2 separate regions of the Homo sapiens genome follow, and region 1 is linked to region 2. Evidence: fine-mapped expression QTL. A gene starts in region 2. The other region holds a variant in brackets. All regions are shown on one strand. Distances are between the middles of the regions. Region 1 has its middle 26 kb from the start of APOBEC1. Region 2 holds the start of CD163L1 (CD163 molecule like 1).

Region 1 (10,643 bases), 190 kb before region 2:
ATAACCTTGACTAAATCTTTCCTGCAATTATTAATCCTAAGATAAGGAAGATAATCAGGCAAAATATTATAACAATTAGAATTTTACAACCAAAATTCCGCATTGTGGGTGCCACGGTGTATAGTTCCATCGCAAATAGTGGTGTAACTATAACATTTCCCACAAGAGTGGCATAGTAAATAATTTTCGTTTAAGTCTTTACTTGCCTAGATATAACATTTCCCTTTGGGGATCTACAAAGTTACAAATGCAATCCCATGTATAATTAAATCTCGCTGCAAATATGCCTTAAAAGGAATTTTAATATTTGGTGGCAGATTTTGAGAGGAAAGGCAGAAATAATAAAAAGTACCCGATGAGGTAGGAGTAGCCCTCACTCAGTTACTTATCTTTTATGATTTTCAGTTTAAGATCTTCTATTTCTCCACATTGATATTCAGGACGTGCCTCTGGGCTGTCAGAGGTTGATCCCTCAGCTGTTCAGGCTTTGACTTGAATGTGGAAGTCAGGAGTTGATTCCTGTAACTTTTACTGCCAATGGTGTTGAAAGAAGAACAGTGTAGGGCCTTTCCCAGCTTGGCTTAGGGAAGGAGACAGAGATGAGGGTTTTCACTAACACCAAATTTCCTGGGTTAAATAAAGGTGGTTCTGTTTCCTGGGGTTGGACTTCTGTTAGTTGCGTTAATTCTTGTTGGAAGTGAGCTAGAGAGGTTACATGCTTAACCAATTTAGAGGTTTCCTGCCTGAAAACAATCTCTGAGCACACTGATAAGTTTTATCCTTTCCCAAGTGAAAAGCTTGGTGAAGGATTTTAAGGACATTGGCTGGAGGCTGGCAAATGGAGTTTGCCATCCTCTGACTGTAGCCTTTCTGAGGGCTGGGAACTACGTCCTCGAGAAGTGGCCTATTTTATTTCTGCAGGGAAATACTGAGGTTTAATTTTTCTTATGGAGCCTTCCTAGATTAGAAGGGGCTTAAGTGCCTTAACGGCTTGAGGCTTCCTTGCCTCTGACTTAACTGCCTGATCAGCTAACCTATTTCCTTTGGCTACCTCATTTGTTCCCTTTTGATGTTCCTTACAATGCATTCCTGCTATTTCTTGTGGAAGAAAAACTGAAGATAACCTGCTAATTTCCTGGTGATATTTTTATAGGGGATCTATTAATGGTAAGAAAATGTCTTTTCTTTCTTTCTTTCTTTTTGAGACGAAGTCTCGCTCCGTCGCCCAGGCTGGACTGCAGTGGCGCGATCTCGGCTCACTGCAACCTCCACCTCCCAGGTTCACGCCATTCTCGTGTCTCAGCCTCCCAGGTAGGTGGGACTACAGGCGCCTGCCACCACGCCTGGCTAATTTTTTGTATTTTTAGTAGAGACGGGGTTTCACCATGTTAGCCAGGATGGTCTTGATCCCCTGACCTCGTGATCCGCCCGTCTGGCCTCCCAAAGTGTTGGGATTACAGGCGTGAGCCACCGCCTGGCCGAAAATGTCTTTTCTTTCAAATGGCAGCATGAGCATGGAGAACCAAGAAAGCATACTTGGAGTTAGTATAAATGTTAGCTACCTTTCCCTTGCTTAATCCAAGTGTGCTTGTAAAAGCTGTTAGCTCAGCTAATTGAGCGCTTGTGCCTGGGGAGAGACGTTATTTAGAGTGACTACTGCTTATCCTGCCTTATGTACTTCTTGCTTTACTGGCGGTTTGTTGGCTAAGAGCTCCCCCTAGAGGACAGTAATCCTGCCACATTATGTGGGGTGTAAACAGTTAAATTATTTCCTAGGGTTAACTTGGAGGCTTTTCTGATTAGCGAGCTGTCATGATAATGGCTTGGAAGCACGTGTCAACTAAGGTTGAGAAAAATACTGGAGTAGAGTTTTTCCTGAGATGCCCCTTCTGGTTGTGCTATGGGAAGAGGGGAGGCCTGGATTAGAGAGGAGAAAAAAGAGAGACTGGCTGAGTGTTTAGAAAGAGGTCTACTTTCCTTCTTTTAATTTCCAGAATCACTCAGAGCTCCTGTGCTGTAATGGCAGTTTGAGCCGCTGGAGCTGGAGTTTGAGCCCCGGGATCCAGTTCTGCTGGATCATCAGTAAGACTGGTTCTGAACCCAGTGACCTCCACCTCTGGGGGCAGTTCCATCTCCTGTTGTCTCTGCCACAGGCTGGAGAGGGTTGAGGTGGCTTTGTCTTGCTGTATGGGCATTCTTTCTTAACATGCTCTGGCCTGCCACACTGATAGCAACTAGCAGATGCACCTCCGGGATCCTGGACTTTGCAAGCCTGCAAAGCTGCTGCTAGAGTCTCTGTCCTTCTGACCATTGTCTCTTTCTTTTGGGCCTCCTCCTGGTTCCTATTACAAAAGACCAAAGTGGCCACTTTCAGGAAGTTCTCTAAGGTGCTATCTGGTCCTATAGCTTGCTTGTGTAGTTTCCTTTTAATATTGGCAGCTGCCTGTCTAATAAACTTGTCCTTTAGGATGAGCTGTCCCTCGACTGAATCAGGGGATAAGGAGGGGTGTTCTGTTAGTGCCTCTCTCAGCCTTTCCATAAAGGCTACAAGATTCTCATCTGGCTGTTTATCATGGACAGTTTAGAGTAATTGAGAGGTTTGGCCCTGGTTTTCCGTAGGCCCTCTAATGCACACTTAAAAAAGAGCTTCCTTTTCATCTCCTGAGTTATTGGGGTCCCAATTAGGGTTGTCAAGGGAAACTGCTTTCCTCCCAATTGGGAATGGCATTTCTGCTATTTCTTCTCTTTCCTTATCTGCTTTCTTCCCTTTTGGTGTATTATAGGAGATATGTTGCTAATCTCTGAAATCAGAGCTGCCTGCTTTTCAGCTGCAGTGAGGGTCTGACTTAGGAGCAACATAACATCCTTCCATCTGAGGTGAAATACCTGAGTTAAATTTTGGAAAGCTTTTTTTTTGAGACGGAGTCTCACTCTATTGCTAGGCTGGAGTTCAGTGCCGTGATCTTGGCTCACTGCAACCTCCACATCCTGGGTGCAAGCGATTCTCCTGCCTCAGCCTCCCAAGTAGCTGAGATTACAGGCACATGCCACAACGCCCAACTAATTTTTGTATTTTTAGTAGAGACGGGGTTTCACCATGTTGACCAGGATGGTCTCAATCTCTTGACCTCGTGATCTGCCCGCCTCAGCCTCCCAAAGTGTTGGGATTACAGGCGTGAGCCACTGCGCCCAGCCTGGAAAGCTTTTATATACCTATCAGGGTTGTGAGAAAATTGGCTAAGTCTCCCTTTATTACAGGCCTAAGGGGCTGTAACGAGAAGGGAACTTGAAGGGGCCCCCAAAGAAGGGGGATCTTCAGATGGCTCCTCTGGAAGTTGCTTTTCTAATTTTGGGGAATTATTTTCAGTGAGCGTGCCTGATATGATTCCTAAAAGAGCTGGGTTGATCTTACACTGCTTGCAAAGTTTCAGTAAAAATACCATGCCCTTGTGCAAAATAAAATGAGTTGCTCTTCTCTTTAATGTCCTGAGGCTAAGAAAGTTTCAGTGTTTCAGAGTGCACGCCAGAGGGGCACAAACTGAAGATAATCTGTTACCCATCTAGAAAGAAAAGCAATAAAAGTGTCCTTTTAATCTACTTTGATTCCCTATGACCCCCGACGGAGAATAACACAGTGGAGTGTCCTGTTTTCCTTCCCTGGTTCCTGGGACCCTGTTAAATGTGCCACCCACGATTGTAAGCATGGTCCCCCAAGCCATGGGAGCGGATGAACTAAGTGATGGTGTGTCCGGAATGGGTGGGTTCTTGGTCTCACTGACTTCAAAAATGAAGCCGCAGACCCTCACGGTGAGTGTTACAGCTCTTAAGGTGGCGCGTCTGGAGTTTGTTCCTTTTGATGTGCAGGTGTGTTCAGTTTTTTCTTTCTGGTGGGTTCATGGTCTGGCGGGCTCAGGAGTAAAGCTGCAGACCTTTGCGGTCACTGTTACAGCTCTTAAGGCAGCGCGTCGGGAGTTGTTCGTTCCTCCCGGTAGGCTCGTGGTCTCGCAAGCTTTCGTGGTGAGTGCTGTAATTCACAAAAGTAGTATGGACCCCAAGAGCGAAAGAACAAAGCCCCACCAAGGCAGAGAGACACCCGAGCGGGTTACTACTACCAACTCGGGCAGCCTGCTTTTATTCTCTTATCTGGCCCCCCCCCAACCACATCCTGCTGATTGGTAGAGGCGAGTGGTCTGTTTTGACAGGGCGCTGATTGGTGCGTTTACAATCCCTGAGCTAGGTACAAAGGTTCTCCTCCTCCCCATCAGATTAGTTAGATACAGAGTATCCACACAAAGGTTCTCCAAGGCCCCACCAGAGCAGCTAGATACAGAGTGTCGATTGGCGCGCTCACAACCCTGAGCTAGACACAGGGTGCTGATTGGTGTGTTTACAAACCTTGAGCTAGATACAGAGTGTCCATTGGTGTATTTGCAATCCCTGAGCTAAACATAAATTCTCCACGTCCTCACCAGACTCAGGAGCCCAGCTGGCTTCACCCAGTGGATCCCGCACCGGCGCTGCAGTCCCACGCCATGCGCTTGCACTCCTCAGCCCTTGGGCGGTCGATGGGACTGGGCGCCGTGGAGCAGGGGGCGGCGCTCGTCGGGGAGGCTCCGGCTGCACAGGAACCCACGGAGGCGGGGGAAGGCTCAGGCATGGCGGGCTGCAGTCCCAAGGCCTGCCCCGCGGGAAGGCAGCTAAGGCCCGGTGAGAAATCGAGCGCAGCGCCGGTGGGCTGGCACTGCTGGGGGACCCAGTACACCCTCCGCAGCCGCTGGCCCGGGTGCTAAGCCCCTCACTGCCCCGGGCCGGCAGGGCCGGCCGGCTGCTCCGAGTGCGGGGCCGCCAAGCCCACGCCCCCCCGGAACTCCAGCTGGCCCGCAAGCGCCGCGCGCAGCCCCGGTTCCCGCTCGCGCGTCTCCCTCCACACCTCCCTGCAAGCTGAGGGAGCGGGCTGCGGCCTTCGCCAGCCCAGAAAGGGGCTCCCACAGTGCAGCGGTGGGCTGAAGGGCTCCTCAAGTGCCGCCAAAGTGGGAGCCCAGGCAGAGGAGGCGCCGAGAG[C/T]GAGCGAGAGCTGTGAGGACTGCTAGCACGCTGTCACCTCTCAATGGGATTAACCACACTTTACCCACGCAACCTTAGCTTATCTGCCTTGTGTGATTCCCTTTGACTTCCTAAGCCTATGTGATCTACCTGGCTCCCTGAAAAATTGATCTTTGGAGAGACTGTGTTGTTTTTGGTCAAGGCTCCTTTAACAGAGGCAATGTGCTAGACTGCCTGCTATTATGGCCCATGCCAAACCATTTACCCTCAGAAAAATGGTTCTGGTTAACTTCTGAACTTAAAATCTCCCTACTAATTATACCATTTTAACAGGAAACAGATTAGATGTCTTAAAAGAGCGTAGGAACAGAATGGCCATTTTCCTGCTTATGGGACAATATCAAGACTAAAATGTGGCAGCAGACATATTACTTCTTTTTGAGACAGAGTCTCACTGTCACCCAGGCTGGAGTGCAGTGACGTAATCTCAGCTCACTGCAACCTCTGCTTCCCCGTTTTAAGCAATTCAATAGCCTCAGCCTCCTGAGCAGCTGGGACCGCAGGTGTGCACCACCACGCCCAGCTAATTTTTGTGTTTTTAGTAGAGACGGGGTTTCACCATATTGGCCAGGCTGGTCTCGAACTCCTGACCTCGTGATCCACCCGCTTTGGCCTCCCAAAGTGTTGGGATTACAGGCGTAAGCCACCATGCCCGGTCGAGGACATATTACTTCTAATTGCTGAAGGCAGAACTTTCCGGTTCACAGAAGTAGGTTAGAGCCTGATTTCTGGTGGTGCAAAAGGAAGTTCAGTGTTACCGTAAAAAATGTGGCCCCTGAAGAGGATTTCTACTTCCACTAGGTGGCGCTGTTGGCTTAGAAATACTATATGCTCACCAGCGCAGCCACAGAGAGCGGGCTTGTTGAGTTACTGCCTGCTGCGTTTGCCATCTTTCCTAGCAGACCTGTTTCACTGAACTGTAAAACTCCCTGCACTTTTCACAGAGAGAGAGTAAGAGACCGTGGATAGAGAAAGAAGGAAAATTTTGCAACAGGATAGTAAGAAGAGAGCCTTGAAATTGAAGGAGAGATTTGAGGTTGGGGCTCGCTCTATAGTCACCACTCCGATGAATGAATTCCCGGTCAATGCAACCAAAATGATAACTGCTCTGATGAATGGAAGAACAGCAGGGTCCTTGGTCTAACATCGTTTTAGATAAAGCGACATGGACACATGTAGAGTGGTTTTAAGGAGTGGAGAGTTTAATAAGCAAGAAAGAAGGAAGAAGCTTCCCAGTACAGGGACAGAGGGAGGGGGGCTCCCAGAGAGAAACCCCGTGTGTGGCAGAGTAGTTTGTTATAGCAGGAGGCTGGAGGAGGAGGTGTCTAATTTGCATAGGGCCCAGGAGATTGGTTTGACCAGGCGTGTCATTCACATAGCCCGTGAAAAACCTGGCACTCCTACCTTACTCCTTTAATATGCAAATGCAGGTCACCATGATATCCATGTTATCTGGAGGCAATCATGACACTTGGCACATGTAGTGATGAGGAGGAGAGGGTGGCACTCTTCCTGTTGGCCATGTTGGGTGGACCCAGTTTCTAATCGCCAGCATTTGCATATCAAAGCTTGCCGGCCTGGTTTTTCAAGCTGCCTTTCTGTTAGAAAAGAAATGGTTTGGGGGTTGCTTCTTATTACAGGAAAATTTCCACTGAGAACCTTTACCCTTTCTAGCGGCCTAAAAGTTATTTCTTAATAATTCCTGTATTATTTGGAGGTGTTTGGGTCATGTGGGTAGATCCCTCCTGAAGTAATGAGTTCTCACTGTTCGTTCACACAAGAGCTTGTTGTTTAAGAGTCTGGCATCTCGCTTGCTCCTACTCTCACCATGTGGCACACTGTCGCCCCTTTGCCTTCCACCATGATTGTAAGCTTCCTGAAGCCCTCATCAGAAGCAGATGCTGGCACTATGCTTCATGCACAGCCTGTAGAACTATGAGTCAACTTAACCCCTTTTCTTTATAGATTACCCAGCCTCAGGTATTCTTTTATAGTAATGCAAGCAGACTAACACAAAGCTCATTATATATTTACAGTAGAGATGGATGTTAATACATGAGCATATTTTATATGAGCCACTATAATTATTGCTATTCCTATAGGAGAAAAATTATTCAGCTGATTAGCAAACTTTCACAGAGAAAATATCTAATGGTCATTAGCTGTACTATGAACTTTAGGCTTTATTTTCTCATTCACAGTTGGAGGCTCAACAAAAATTGTATCAGCTAAATTATCATTTGATATCAACCTTCATGATAGATATTGTTGTAGTAAAGCAAAGTAAAATGAAAGTAAAGTCAAAGTAAAGCAAAGTAAAAGGCTAGAGAGTGTTGGAAGCAGTGAATCCTATTTTAGATGGACTTGCCAAGGATACTGGTAATTTTCTTTTTTTTTTGAGATGGAGTCTTTCTTTGTCATCCGGAGTGGAGTGCAGTGACTTGATCTTGGCTCACTGCAACCTCTGCCTCTGGGGTTCAAGCGATTCTCCTGCCTCAGCCTACTGAGTAGCTGGGATTATAGGCACGTGCCATCATGCCTGGCTAATTTTTGTATTTTTAGTAGAGACGGGGTTTCACCATATTGGCCAGGCTGGTCCCGCACGCCTGACCTTGTGATCTGCCCACCTCGGCCTCCCGAAGTGCTAGGATTACAGGCATGAGCCACTGCACCTGGGCGGATACTGGTAATAAAGTAAATGAGCAGGTCATGTGAAAATCTGGAGAAAGTTTATTTCAAGCAGATGGAAGAAGGTGCAGGCATTTGAAATTGGAACAAAACAAATTTGGCATTTTTTAAGGAATAAAAAATGTGGTTAGAGTGGAATAAATGAGGTGAGAAAATGTAGGAAATAGGGCCAGGGAGACAAGCAAAGGTAAGATTATGTAGGGAAGTATAGGTCATGGAAAGAAATTTGGATTTTCTTTTGAGTAAACTGGATTTTAGAAATTTGTGGTAGTGCAGGATTTATTATGTATTAACAAGAACTGGTTGCCTGCTGTATGGAAAACAGATATAGTGGGGCAAAAGTGAAGTAAGGAAGTCCAGTTAGAAATACAGCAGATATCTAGTAAAGACTAAGCTCTGATTTTTTATCTGGCCTAAATTCCTTATTAAGGGGTATGGGGAGTCATGACCCACAAACCATAAATTCTCATCAGATGGGTTTTATTTAATCCTGTATATTACGACTTACTTTCCAATCTGACTCTGGCATAACTAGAAAGAAAATAAAAATGTTTTACCCCAAAATATATTTTCTTGCCATACCTTGAAATTGCCCTGCAAAGTCCCTTGTGGGAAAAATCCACATTCTATAGAGAATCCCCTTTCCCCTTTGTTTTCCTTTCTTCCTTTCTGGATCCAGGAGATAATCAACTAAGAGCCAGGTACCCTTTTAGGTCTGATAGGAAACATTTTACAACCTGCTGTCTCTGAAGTCTGCTATCAGAGAGCTTCCTCTGCACAATAAAACTTGGTCTCCACAATTCTTTATCTTAACTTGAACATACCTTTCTTTTTTTTGAGACAGAGTCTCACTCTGTCACCCAGGCAGGAGTGCAATGACGCAATCTCGGCTCACTGCAACTTTCGCCTCCTGGGTTCAAAAGATTCTTGTGCCTCAGCCTCCCAAGTAGCTGGGGTTACAGGCACCCACCACCATGCCCAGCTAATTTTTGTATTTTTAGTAGAGACAGGGTTTCACCATGTTGGCCAGGCTGGTCTCGAACTCCTGACCTTGGGTGATCCACCTGCCTTGGCCTCCCAAAGTGCTGGGATTACAGGTGTGAGCCACCACACCCGGCCTGGACATTTCCTTTCTATTGATCCCAGCTCTTCAGATAAACTCAACCAACTGTCATACAGAAAATGTTTAAATTTACCTATAGCCTGGAAGCCCCTGCTTTGAGTTGTCCTGCCTTTCTGAACCAAACCAATGTATTTCTTAAATGTATTTGATGTGTCATGCCTTCCTAAAACATATAAAAGCAAGCTGTACCCCATCCATCCTGGGCACATGTTCTCAGGACCTCCTGAGGGCTGTGTCATGGGCCATGGTCACTCATATTTGGCTCAGAATAAATCTCTTCACATATTTTATAGAGTTTGACTATTTTCATCCATACTAGGAAATATGACTATTATCTCTACTGAAATAAAGATACAAGTGGTGAGAAGTAGTAAGATTTGGGATATATATTAAAGGTTTAGTTGACAGGATTTGTTGATGGAATAAATGTATGCTACAAAGGGAAAACTCATGACTTTTACATTTTTAGCAAGAACAACCAGATGAATGATACTGTCACTTAACTGAAATGAGGAACACAGGGCTAGGAGTGGTTTGAAAGTGAAGTCAAGAGTTCCATTTAATTATGTTAACTTTTAAAATGTTTATTAGACATACAAGTGGACAGTTATTCATGTCTGAATTTGATAGAAAAGGTAAAATCTGGGGATTAAAAAAATGGGCTTTACATATGCATTGTCTTAAAGTCACAGGAATGGTTGACCTTACTTAGACATGTGAATATGAATTGTGGACATAAGAAAATTGAAGACCAATCCACAGGATTTACCAACATCTGGAGATCAAGACAAAGACGAAGAAACAGCAAAGTTGGCTGAGTAGCAGTAGCCAATAAGATAAAAGATAAATCAGAAAACTTTTATCCCAGAAGCCAAGTGGAGAGAAAAGTGTTTTAAGAATGAAGATGGGGAAGATTCTAGGTAGGTGGTTTTAGTACAGTGCACTTTAAAAATCTCCATCTAGGGCAGCAAAACCAAGGAGCAATGAACAAAACCCATTTATAGCAAAACTAGATGGCAAAATTTCTCCATGAGCTTTCAGTTATGAGAAGATGATGACGAATTATCAGTAACTACACAACCCACAAAGTATCAGCATCTGTTTGGGAAGTTGGACAGGATCCAACTCACAGGAAAGTCTAATAGGGCCACAGTGCAATAAAGTATAAAGATGTTGGGTAAGTCTGGGCCCTATAGACTTTCTTTTTTTAAAAATTTTTAACCTTTTTTTTTTTGGAAATGGAGTCTCGCTCTCTCGCCCAGGCTAGAGTGCAGTGGCGCGATCTCCCCTCATTGCAAACTCCACCCCCCGTGTTCACGCCATTCTCCTGCCTCAGCCTCCCAAGTAGCTGGGACTACAAGCGCCCGCCACCACGCCCAGCTAATTTTTTGTATTTTTAGTAGAGATGGGGTTTCACCATGTTAGCCAGGATGGTCTCGATCTCCTGACCTCGTGATCCACCCGCCTTGGCCTCCCAAAGTGCTGGGATTACAGGCGTGTGCCACCGTGCTCAGCAAATTTTTTTAACTTTTTAGTTCAGGGGTACATGTGCATGTTTGTTACATGGGTAAACTTGTGTCATGGGGGTTTGCTGTACAGATCATTTCATCACCCAGATATTAAGCCTAGTACCCATTGTTATTTTTCCTGATCCTCTCTCTCCTCCTACCCTTCACCCTCCAACAGGCCTCAGTGTGTGTTGTTCCTTTCTATGTATACATGTGTTTTCATC
Region 2 (10,643 bases):
ATTTTTGGGATCATAGTGGACTATAAAAACTCCTAATAAATAAATCTAAAGAAAGACTATATTATAATTTAAGAAACTTATATACATATATTTATAAATATATAGCTGTGATTTATAATAACATCATAAATTATACAGATAGATTATGTTTGCATTTGAAGATGTAGGGTAGCTTGCTCATGTTCCTTCTTTCACCATATTTCCTCAAATATTTTATAAGAATACTTTTAAAAGATATATTTCTCACTTCTCTTTTAAATAAACTTTTTATATTGGAATAATTTAGATTTACAGAAAAGTTGTGAAGATAATAAAGAGAGTTTCCATTTACTGCTCATCCATTTTCAATTTCCCCTAATCTAATAATTATCATCTACTATCATCATGGAACATTTGTCAAAACTATGAAACCAGCATTGGTACATTATTGTTGTGGATTGAATTGTGTCCCCACAGAAGATATGTTCAGGTCCTAATCCCTTGTATCTATGAATGTGGCCTCAATCCGAAATAGGGTCTCTGCAAATGTAATCAGTTAAAATGAGGCTATACTGGATTAGAGTAAGCCCTAATCCAACAATGTGTCCTTACGAAAAGAGGAAAATTTGGACTTAGAAACACACAGGAAGGATGCTATATGATGGTGGAGGCAGAGATTGGAGTGATGAATCTTCAAACCAAGGAATGCTTATGATTGCCAGCAACAAGCAAAAGCTAGGAAGAGGCAAGGAAGGATCCTCCCTTAGAATCTTTGTAGGGACATGGCCTGCTGACATCTTGATTTCATTCTTGTCATTTCCAGAACTGTAAAAAAAATAAATTGCTATTGTTTTAAGCCACCCAGTTAGTGGTACTGTGCTATGGCAGCCCTGGAAAACAAACCCAATTACTGTTAAATAAACTCCAGATTTTTTAAAATTAATGTCTCTTTTCTGTTTCAGGATCCAATCCAGGATATCACATTGCATTTTGTTGTCCTGTCTTTATAGTGTCCTCTGGTCTATGCCAGTTTCTCAGTCTTTTCTTATTTCTTATGACCTTGACAGTTTTGAAGAGTACTGGTCAGGTGTTTTTTAGCATGTCCCTCACCTTGGGTTTGCCTCATGTTTTACTCATGAATAGATTGGAGTAATGGGGTTTGGGAAAGAACACCACAGCAGTGCCCTACTCATCACACAATATCAGGGCATACATGATATACACATGTTATCTCTGGGGATGTGACTGTTGATCATTTGTTTGAAGTGGTATTTGCTAGATTTCTCCGCTGTAAAGTTATTTACCATCTTTCATACTCCATGCTTTGGAAGTAAATCACTAAGCCTAATATAGGTCTGCTAGTAATGACGTCTCTCAAGCTTTGTTTAAGGGTTTTTAAAATTTCTCCTTCAGTTTTGAAATATATACTCACTATGCAGAGTATTCTTGATTGACAGGTTATTTTCTTTCTTTTAGCACTTAGTAGATATCATCTTCATTGTCTTCATGCATGCACAATTTTGACAAGAGGTCGTCTGTAATTTTTTTTTCTCTCTCTCTCTATATATACGTAATGTGCTTTTTTTCCTTTGGCTGCCTCTCTCTCTGTCTGTCTCTCTGTCTCTTTCTCTCTCTCTCTGTATCTCTCTCTCTCTCTCTCTCATGCCTGTGCAGGTTTAAATATGTTATACCTAGGTAGAGAGTATGTGAGTGTGTGTGTTATTCTTTTCTTACTTGGTGTTCTTTAAGTACATTGTACTGTGGTTTGGTGTCTGTCATTATTCCTAATCATTATTTCTCTGAGTCTTTCTTCTGCCCCATTCTGTCATCATTTTTCTCCTAGCATTCCAATTATAAGTCTGCTGCATATTGTCCTATAGCTTTTGGTTTCTCTGGTCTATTTTTTGTTCACTTCTTGTAGATTTCTTCCAAAATTGTTCCAAATTATGGCTGCCTTCATGTATTCATGTCCAGTGTAATCTGCTCCCCTTGTGTGTGGGCTGGATCTAGTAACTTGCTTCTAATGAATAGAATATGGCAAAAGTGCTGAGATATCAATTTCAAGATTAGGTTAGAAAGGACTGTGACTCCATATTTCTCTCTCTTTCTCTCTCTCTCTCTCTCTCTGCAAGATTTTACACGCTTTCTGCTCTATGGGTGATGTCCTCCTGGTAAGAAACTCAGGGCAGCCTCAGTCCAATTTGGCAAGAAACTGAGCCCCTCAGTACAACATTCTGCCAGCAACCATATTAGGGACTGTATTAGTCTGCTCTGGCTGTCATAACAAAATACCACAGACTGGGTGGCTTCAGCTACAGAAATTTATGCTCTCACAGTTATGGAGGCTAGAAGTCCATGTTCAAGGTGCCAGCAAATTTGGTTTCTGGTGAGGGCTCTCTTCCTGGCTTGCAAACAGCCACCTTCTCTCTGTGTCCTCACATGGCCTTTCCTCTTTGCATGTGTGAAGAGAGTTCTCTGTGTCTTGTTTTGTTCTTATAAGGATAGTAATCCTGGATTAGGACTTCACTCTTATAACTTTATGTAATGTTAATTACTTCCCTAAAGGCCCTATCTTCAAATATAGTCACATTAGGGCTTCAACCTGTGGATTTTGTGGGGGACAAAATTCATTCCGTAACATTCTACCCTCCACTCCCAAATTCATGTTATTCTCACATGATAAATATATTAATCCCATTCCAACAACACATAAAGTCTTAACCCTTTCCAGCATCAATTCTAAAGTCTAAAGTGCAAAGTCTCATTTAAATCAGGTATGGGTGAGACTCAAGTTATGATTCATCCTGAGGCAAAATTCCTTTCCAGTTGTGAACCTGTGAAGCCAGACAAGTTATGTGCATCCAAAAAACAGTAGTGGGACAGGCATAAGACAGACATTCTCATTCCAAAAAGGAGAAGTGGCAAATTCCATTAGATCTTAAGATTCAACAATAATTATCTTTGGCTGAATCCTCTGCCCTCCAGGCCCACTGGGGTGGCATTGTCACCACCACAGCTGTAAGTAGCAGACTGTTAAAACTTTTTGTGGCTGCTCCACTCCTCAGGCACGGATGGAGGCAGCCTGGTCTACTGAAACTGAGGAGATGGTCCCATCCTCTGAAACTGAGGACAAAACAGCCTTTCCTCTGGGCCTATAGTGGGAGTTACAGCACTGATGACCTCTGAATCACCTTCAAGGTCATTTATCCCTTTCCTTGAAGGATAAAGCATGTTCACAGCTGAATATCTCTATTATTTCATCCTACAGAATCTCAGAAGTCAGAAAGCTTTCCATGATTTATTTCAACCCATTTCTATTCTCTTTGGTCCAAACTGGCAGGGTCTCTGCTGATATAATCCCATCTCTATTCAAGGCTCCCGCTAAGGTGGATGAAAAAAGTCATGGTTAATTTCCCTATGGAGTGATTGAGGCGCCACACCATTGATGTTCTCTCCAGAACACATTTTATCATTTTTTTGCTATATAAATAGGCCGAGATTTTTCCAAATCTTCAGTTTCTGGGTTGCTTTTGTTTTTGTTTTTTGCTTAACAATGCTGTCAATTTATCTTTCCCCTCTAGCCTTTTACCATGAGCAATTAGGAAAAACTAGGCTGTGCTTTTAACACTTTGCTTATATATCTTCCCTTTTAAAAATCCAAAGTTGTAATTCACAAGTCCTACACTTTACAAAACACTAAGACACAATTCAGACAAGTTCTTTGCCACTTTAAAACAAAAATCATCTTTTCTGCAGTTTCCAATAACATGTTCCTCACTTCCATGGAAGACTTCATCAGAATTGCTTTTAGCATTCATGTTTTTATTAACAGTCCCTTCAAGGCAATTTAGGCTTTCTCAGGCATGCACCTGAAAACTTTTCTAGCCTCTATTCACTACCCAGTTCCAAAGGCACTTCCACATTTTTAGGTTATCTGTTACAGAAGCATCTCCCTTCTCAGTACCAACATCTGCATTTGTCTGCTTGGATCAACATAGCAAAGTACTGTAGACTGAGTCACTTAAAAATGACAGAAATTTATTTTTCACATTTCTGGAGGCTAGAAGTTCATTATCAAGGTACCAGGAAATTTGGTTTCTAGTGAGGGCTCTCTTGCTGGCTTTTAGACATCCACTTTTTGTCTGTGTCCTCACGTGGCCTTTCTTCTGCACATTTGTGGAAAGAGAGAGAACAAGCTCTGGTGTCCCTTCTTGTAAGGACATCAATCCTATTGGATTAGGGCCTCACCCTTATAATCTCAAGTAACCTTAATTACCTCCTTAAAGGCCCTGTCTTGAAACATAGTCACACTGGGGGGTTATTGCTTTAATCTATAAATTTTGAGGAGACACAATTCAGTCCATGGAATAGCAGTGGCCATGGGAGCAGATCCTTCCTCAGTCAAGCTTCCAGGTGAGACCACAGCCCCAGTTTACAATGTAATTATAGCCCTGTGTGAGATCTTGAAGCAGAATATCCAGCTATTTCCCCAAAGAGATAGTTATCACATCCCTTATGCTTTTTTATCATAAAGGCAAGAAAGGGACTCATTTAGATTAGAACCTGCTACGAAATATTTGAGAGTGAGAGAACTTGGGTGTCTAGAAATGGGAGAAACTCAAAACAGTAGCAGAGATATTGTGGAGACATTTATTCTATCAAAGAATAGCAATAATCAGGTTTTCATTGTTTTCTATTTTCAGTTCCCACTTCTGTGAGATCATTTTATCAGCAGTTAGTTTGCTATGGATTCTGTTAGCATGAAAGCGTTTCCGGTCATACTGTATTTTAAAAATTTCAGGAAATTTTCTCAGCATGGCTGAGAAATAATATACTAAAACAAGTTTCAGCATCCTCTTTTTGTGTCTTCCATTCTTCCATCATGTGACTTATCCTAGTTAGTGAATTACATTTCCCCAAAGACATTTCATCTCAAGCTTTCCAAGAAAAAATTCTCCCTGTTTTCCTCCTGATTTCTTCTGACTTTGGGCACCTACCTCAGTTCTGAGAAGTAAGAAAGAGACTATATTTTGAGAATGGCACTTTATCATTTCAGAGGCACATCTCGCTCATATCTAGCAAGCTCCGATGTTTAATTGGACTTCAAAATACATTTGGCATTAATTGCAGCAGAATTTTATTTAACCTCTGTTATATAAAGCCTTGTCAGGTATCTAAGTTGAAAAGGGACAAGAAAAAATAAAGTTCTTGAATTTATCAATGGAGATTTATAAGGACTTATTTATCTAAAGTATTTAGATATTTTATATCTCATTTTAATTTCTGTATATATTAGCTTCTTTTTTACTAATAGGCCTACTCGACATGGAAGTATAGGACGAAAAATCCTGGCAAACACTCTGATGGGCTCACTTGGGTCATTGGCTTTTCCTTGAACTTGTCACTGTAATCGGGGAGACGTGGGCGTGTGAAAAGATGTGATCTACCATTCTTAACATATCAAGGAAGGGAAAAAGCAATTTTCCCAAAGAAGCAGGGCAGGACATACAGGCCTATCCGAACACAGAACAATCACTATGAGCTCAGAAGCCACTCATGGTTTTCTACCTAATGGTTGAAATCATTTAAATGAATGTTTTCCAAACTCATTTGATGACTAAGCTTTATTTTCTTTTACATAATCATTAACAATAAAAAACTAATTTTAAAGGACTCCATTTTGTTAAACATTTTTATAGACATGAAATTTTTTCAAATATGTTTATCTGTGCTCATGTTTCATCAGCAAAGCTTTCGTAGACTAGCCAGTTTTCAGCAATGTAACCTCTTCTGATCCTTTTAGCATAACTGGTTGAAATATGTATGCTAAAGTAAACAAACCTGATGATATATTTTATCTTTTAGATAAATATCTATAAAACTGTGCTGACAAGATCACATTTATGGAACAAAAATTTTTAAATGTGAAACATGAGTCTTTTTGAAAATTTAGAGTGGCAATTTACAGTTCCCTTTATTCTGTGAGACTTTCCAGGCATATTATTTAACTTCCTTTGTTTTCCATATCCTAACGTGATAAGGAAGTAGCAAAGAAAAAACAACCTCAGCTTTTATAATGACTTCCCCTTTGGAAAACTATGAACTCAATTTTACAGTATTGTCATTTCCAAATAGCAGATCTGTTTTCACCTCATGAGCAGTTCTGAGATTATATATAAGAGGACCCAGGAGTTACATCAGGACTCAGGAAGAGATAGACCCATAATGATGCTGCCTCAAAACTCGTGGCATATTGGTAAGGTTTTGCTTTTATTTTGCTCTGCCATTTGGGAGATGGTGGGTATACTAAGAATATGTGTAACAACAAACAGATATAAATATTATGTAGTAAGGTAAAAAGAAAACAGGACATGAGAAATATAAAAAAATTGAAAGTTTTGTGGAACTTAGAGTAGCAGCAATATTGGAGGCAAAACTGAAATCCAAGAAAGGAGGAAAACATTAATAAAGTAAACAGAAAATGTATTATAAAGACTGGAGATTAGAAGTCACACAAGGATATGAAGTTGTGGAAATAGAAAGAAGGGATAAATTAGAAACTTATTGTTATCAAGTGCCAGGTACTACAGTAAATGCTTTAGGTCATCTCAATTTAATTCACACATGTAACCTATTTTATAGATATTATTGTCTCCATTGGTAGATGGAAAATGAAGACTTATAAGGACTAACTGACTTATGTAAGGTCATGTAGTAGAATCTCAAGTGTAATTTAAATTCAGGACCAGCTAAGTCTGAGCCCTTGATCTTTCTGCTATAAATTTTAATAAAGCAAATAAATAAGAAGACATTATGATAAAAAACAAAGAACAAGTCTTTGATGGACCCTAAAGAGTAAGGACTAAGAAAGGAATACATGGCTAAGAAGTCTTTCACAGCACATCTGAAATTAGTAGTAACCTTTGCACTTGCACTTCATAGACATTTCGTGGAAATAAAGAATCACGAAGGGAGGTTTTTGCTGTATTTGGGACTTATAACTCCTAAATAGGATTGAGGCTTTTGAAAATGCAGTGCTACTCCTGTTGGCATTGTGTCTCTGTGCCATTCCTCAGTGCAATTACTACAAGTCAACTTAATATTTTGTAACTGTTTTGCTTATGACTAAAGACCAGCACATTTCTAGAAAACCAGCAGAAGTTCTGATATTTTTCAAAGCCTCCTTTTTGAAAAAGGGTTTCTACAGTTTGAGAAGCTTGGCTGCCTTCTATCTAGCAAGGCTCATCTTAATGAATTACAGTTCTTCATAATTCATGTGTGTTACTTAAAAGATAATATTATTTAACTTTCAACATGCTGTCTGCCATGTATCTAATTAGAAAAGGAATGGGAAAGATGAAGGTCTTGAATTGGTGAGATGGTATTAGATATATAGAAGGTCACAAGTTCTGGCAATTATACTTTAATTCTCCTTCTCAAGAATTTCCTACTGCACTATTTGTTCACGTTCATCAGATCTTGATTGTGCTGGTGTCAGAGCTTACTATTCTTTTTTCTTTATAGTTCATCTTTAGCTCTAACCATTCTTACAAATGGGCACTCAGAGTTTCCTGGAAGGATTTAGGAAGATGAAATGGCCTCCTAGGATAATCCTACACATGAGGTTTGATGGAACTAAATATTCTTATTAGGAACAAAAGAAATAAGAGAAAAAAGAAGACCAACTTAAAGTGTTTTGGACAAGATGGAAAAGAAGGAAATTGGGACACTAATTGCCCATTCCACACTTATTTCTCCCTGTTTCGTTCTATAGGGAGGGTTTTCTCTTGATTTGGGTACATTTTCCAAGAATGATGGATGTGACTGATGATAATTGTAATAATAAAGTCTCCTCTATGGTTATTACTGACTGTTGCCAAACTCACTTGGGATTACTTCTTAGAGAAGTGCCCGGGATCCATTTTAGTTTCAAAGCATCATTTGAAAAACTAAAGATGTCCACCAAAGCAGGTTGCGCCTTCTGTCTCTGCTTTTGCGTAGCCCAAGCAGCATGGGCCTTTCCCCGATGGGTACTGTTCCTTCTGTCCTCTTAGGGTTTTTGTTTTTTGTTGTCTGGGATTACACATGCTCAGTTTAACTCTGACTTCATCTTTTCCATAAGATACTAATGAAAATACTATTTAAGATAGTTCTCTAACAGTTACAGCTGTTACATACCCCTCAAGTAAACAGGATGATAAATATTATTTTAAAGTATTTCTTATACATTTATTTACCCCTATGAATTAATCATCCCATCTGCTTTTAAAATAATCTTTCTATAATGTAAATTTTATTTATTACACTGATTCAATTCTTTATAGTCTCCAAATAACTCTCAGAATAAATTCTCAACTCCTTCGCTTGTGTATTGCTCCTGCCTATCTTAGTTCATTCTTTCCCCACACGTGTAGCATAAACTTTATTAGATGCAGAACTGAGCATGACTGAAAAGACAGGGAGAAGTGAGGAAGTGGCAAGATTCTGTAGGAATAATAGAATAGTGACCCTGAAGAAAAGTGGATAGCTTTGGTAAATAATCATGAGCTCAATCAGCAGTTATTATAGTGACCTCCAAATGTTGATTTGCTTGTACATTCCAGTCACAAGCCACTGAGTGGAATACAGGCAAGAACACTTATTCATTCCTCTATTCCCATAATGAAGCACAAGATCGGGTACATATGTCATACTCAATAAAGGAGCAAATGAATGAACAAAGTAGGGGGATAACGTTAGGAGGAAAAACAGTAAAAATGAGGAGAGGGTCAAAGAGTTGAGAAGTAAAAATTACTCAGTAACCCAAAATGCTAATCAATTACCCCAAACAGCCACAAAATATATTTGGACACAGAATGCAATTTTTCAATGAATCACATGCTAAAATATCTGCCCTGTTACAAACCACTTGGTGCCTTTCCATCACAAACAGGAGCTAGTCCTGTGGCTTTTCCTGGGAAAAGGACTTTCTTGTGCGGTATCCTTGACAGGTGGAAGAATAATTCATCTTACTCCTTCTATTTTATTTTGGATTTAAGTCATTGAGGTCATCTAACATTTCTTAGAAAGACATGAAATTCTACCCTGCTATATTTTGTTTCTCCAGATTTTGGAAGATGCTGCTGTCATCAGAACCTTTTCTCTGCTGTGGTAACTTGCATCCTGCTCCTGAATTCCTGCTTTCTCATCAGCAGTTTTAGTGAGTTCTGATGGATGATAACTTTTGGGCTTACAATCCTCTATTCTACCTTTCCCCTACTCACTACCCTAAGTGCATATTTTGAGGGAAATAGAACATGTAAAAATAATGTTGGACCTTCAATAGCTATACCCTGTAAATAAAGGTGTCCAAATTATTTTTATGCATTTCATATTACATTTTTCGTTGACATTTTTCTCCTTCAGATAAAGAGAATTTCCAAATCCGGCCGGGCACAGTGGCTCAGGCCTGTAATCTCAGCACTTTGGGAGGCCAAGGTGGGGAGATCACCTGAGGTCAGGAGTTCGAGACCAGCCTGGCCAACACAGTGAAACCACATCTCTATTAAAAATACAAAAATTAGCCGGGTGTGGTGGTGTGCACCTGTAACCCCAGCTACTTGGGGGGCTGAAGTGGAAGAATTGCTTGAACCCAGGAAGTGGAGGTTGTAGTGAGCCGAGATCGTGCCCCTACACTCCAGCCTGGGCGACAGAGCAAGACTCCATCTCAAAAAAAAAAAAAAAGAAAAAAGATAAAGATAGTTTCCAAACGTAAAATGTCTCACTGAAAAAATATGGATATTGTATTTTTGCAAATAGAAAAATCGGTTAATAAAAACTTACAAGATACAGAAATCAAAGAATTAAATACAATTAAAAATATATATGTGTTACACACCATGGAATACTATGCAGCCATAAAAAGATGAATTCAAGGGCCGGGCTGGGCGCGGGAGCTGGCCGGGCTGGGCGCGCCGCGGTCCCGCACCCACTTCCGCTTCCCGTGCGGCGGTGGGGGGATGGCGGCAGGGCCGGTGGGCGGCGGCGGCTCCAGGTCCCTGCCCGGGCGCGGCACTGCGCAGTCCGCCCTCCCCGTCGCAGGGGCGCTCCTGAGCTTCGCGGGGCCGCCTCCAGGGCTGCCTGCGCGGAGGGCCGGCCGCGGCCGACGCGAGTGTTAAGTGTCCGCCCTGGCCGGCTACCCGGAGCCAAGAGCAGGCGGCGGAGCCTGAGCGGGACGTGGCCACGCTGGCGCGGCGGGTCCAAGCCCGCCATTGGTCGGCTTCCGTTACGCCGCTGATGTGGAGTAGGGCGGAGCGCGGAACGCGAGGAGCTGCTGGGGTGTGTGTCGCAGCGGGTTTTCCTCGGCGGTTTGCGGAGCTGCTAGGATGGAGCAGGCTGCGGAGGGAGCGAGTGTGACCGCAGCCCCTGTGTCAGCTGCCGACAGCACTGAGGAGTTGGCCGAAGTCGAAGAAGGAGTTGGAGTAGTGGGCGGGGATAATGACGCAGCCGCGAGAGGAGCGGAGGCCTTTGGCGACAGTGAGGAGGACGGAGAGGATGTGTTCGAGGTGGAGAAGATCCTGGACATAAAGATCGAGGGGGGTGAAATTCTTTACAAAGTTCGCTGGAAAGGCTATACATCGGATGACGATACCTGGGAGCCCGAGACTCACCTGGAGGACTGTAAA

Evidence for each region.
Region 1: its variant is fine-mapped to the expression of CD163L1 in testis (GTEx, PIP 0.99).

What each region holds. Positions count from the first base shown.
Region 1 is chr12:7,634,119-7,644,761 of GRCh38, reverse strand. No RefSeq gene overlaps it. Among named protein-coding and RNA genes, the nearest start is that of APOBEC1, 26 kb to the left of the region's middle. RefSeq lists silencers at 4,630-4,729, 5,811-5,940 and an enhancer at 6,382-6,916. The variant C/T (reference allele first, on the strand shown) is at 5,062.
Region 2 is chr12:7,439,689-7,450,331 of GRCh38, reverse strand. It overlaps CD163L1 (CD163 molecule like 1), which reads left to right and starts at 6,179. Exons shown (of 20, transcript NM_174941.6): 1 at 6,179-6,235; 2 at 9,086-9,178. The coding sequence starts at 6,205. It also overlaps the pseudogene LOC100419928.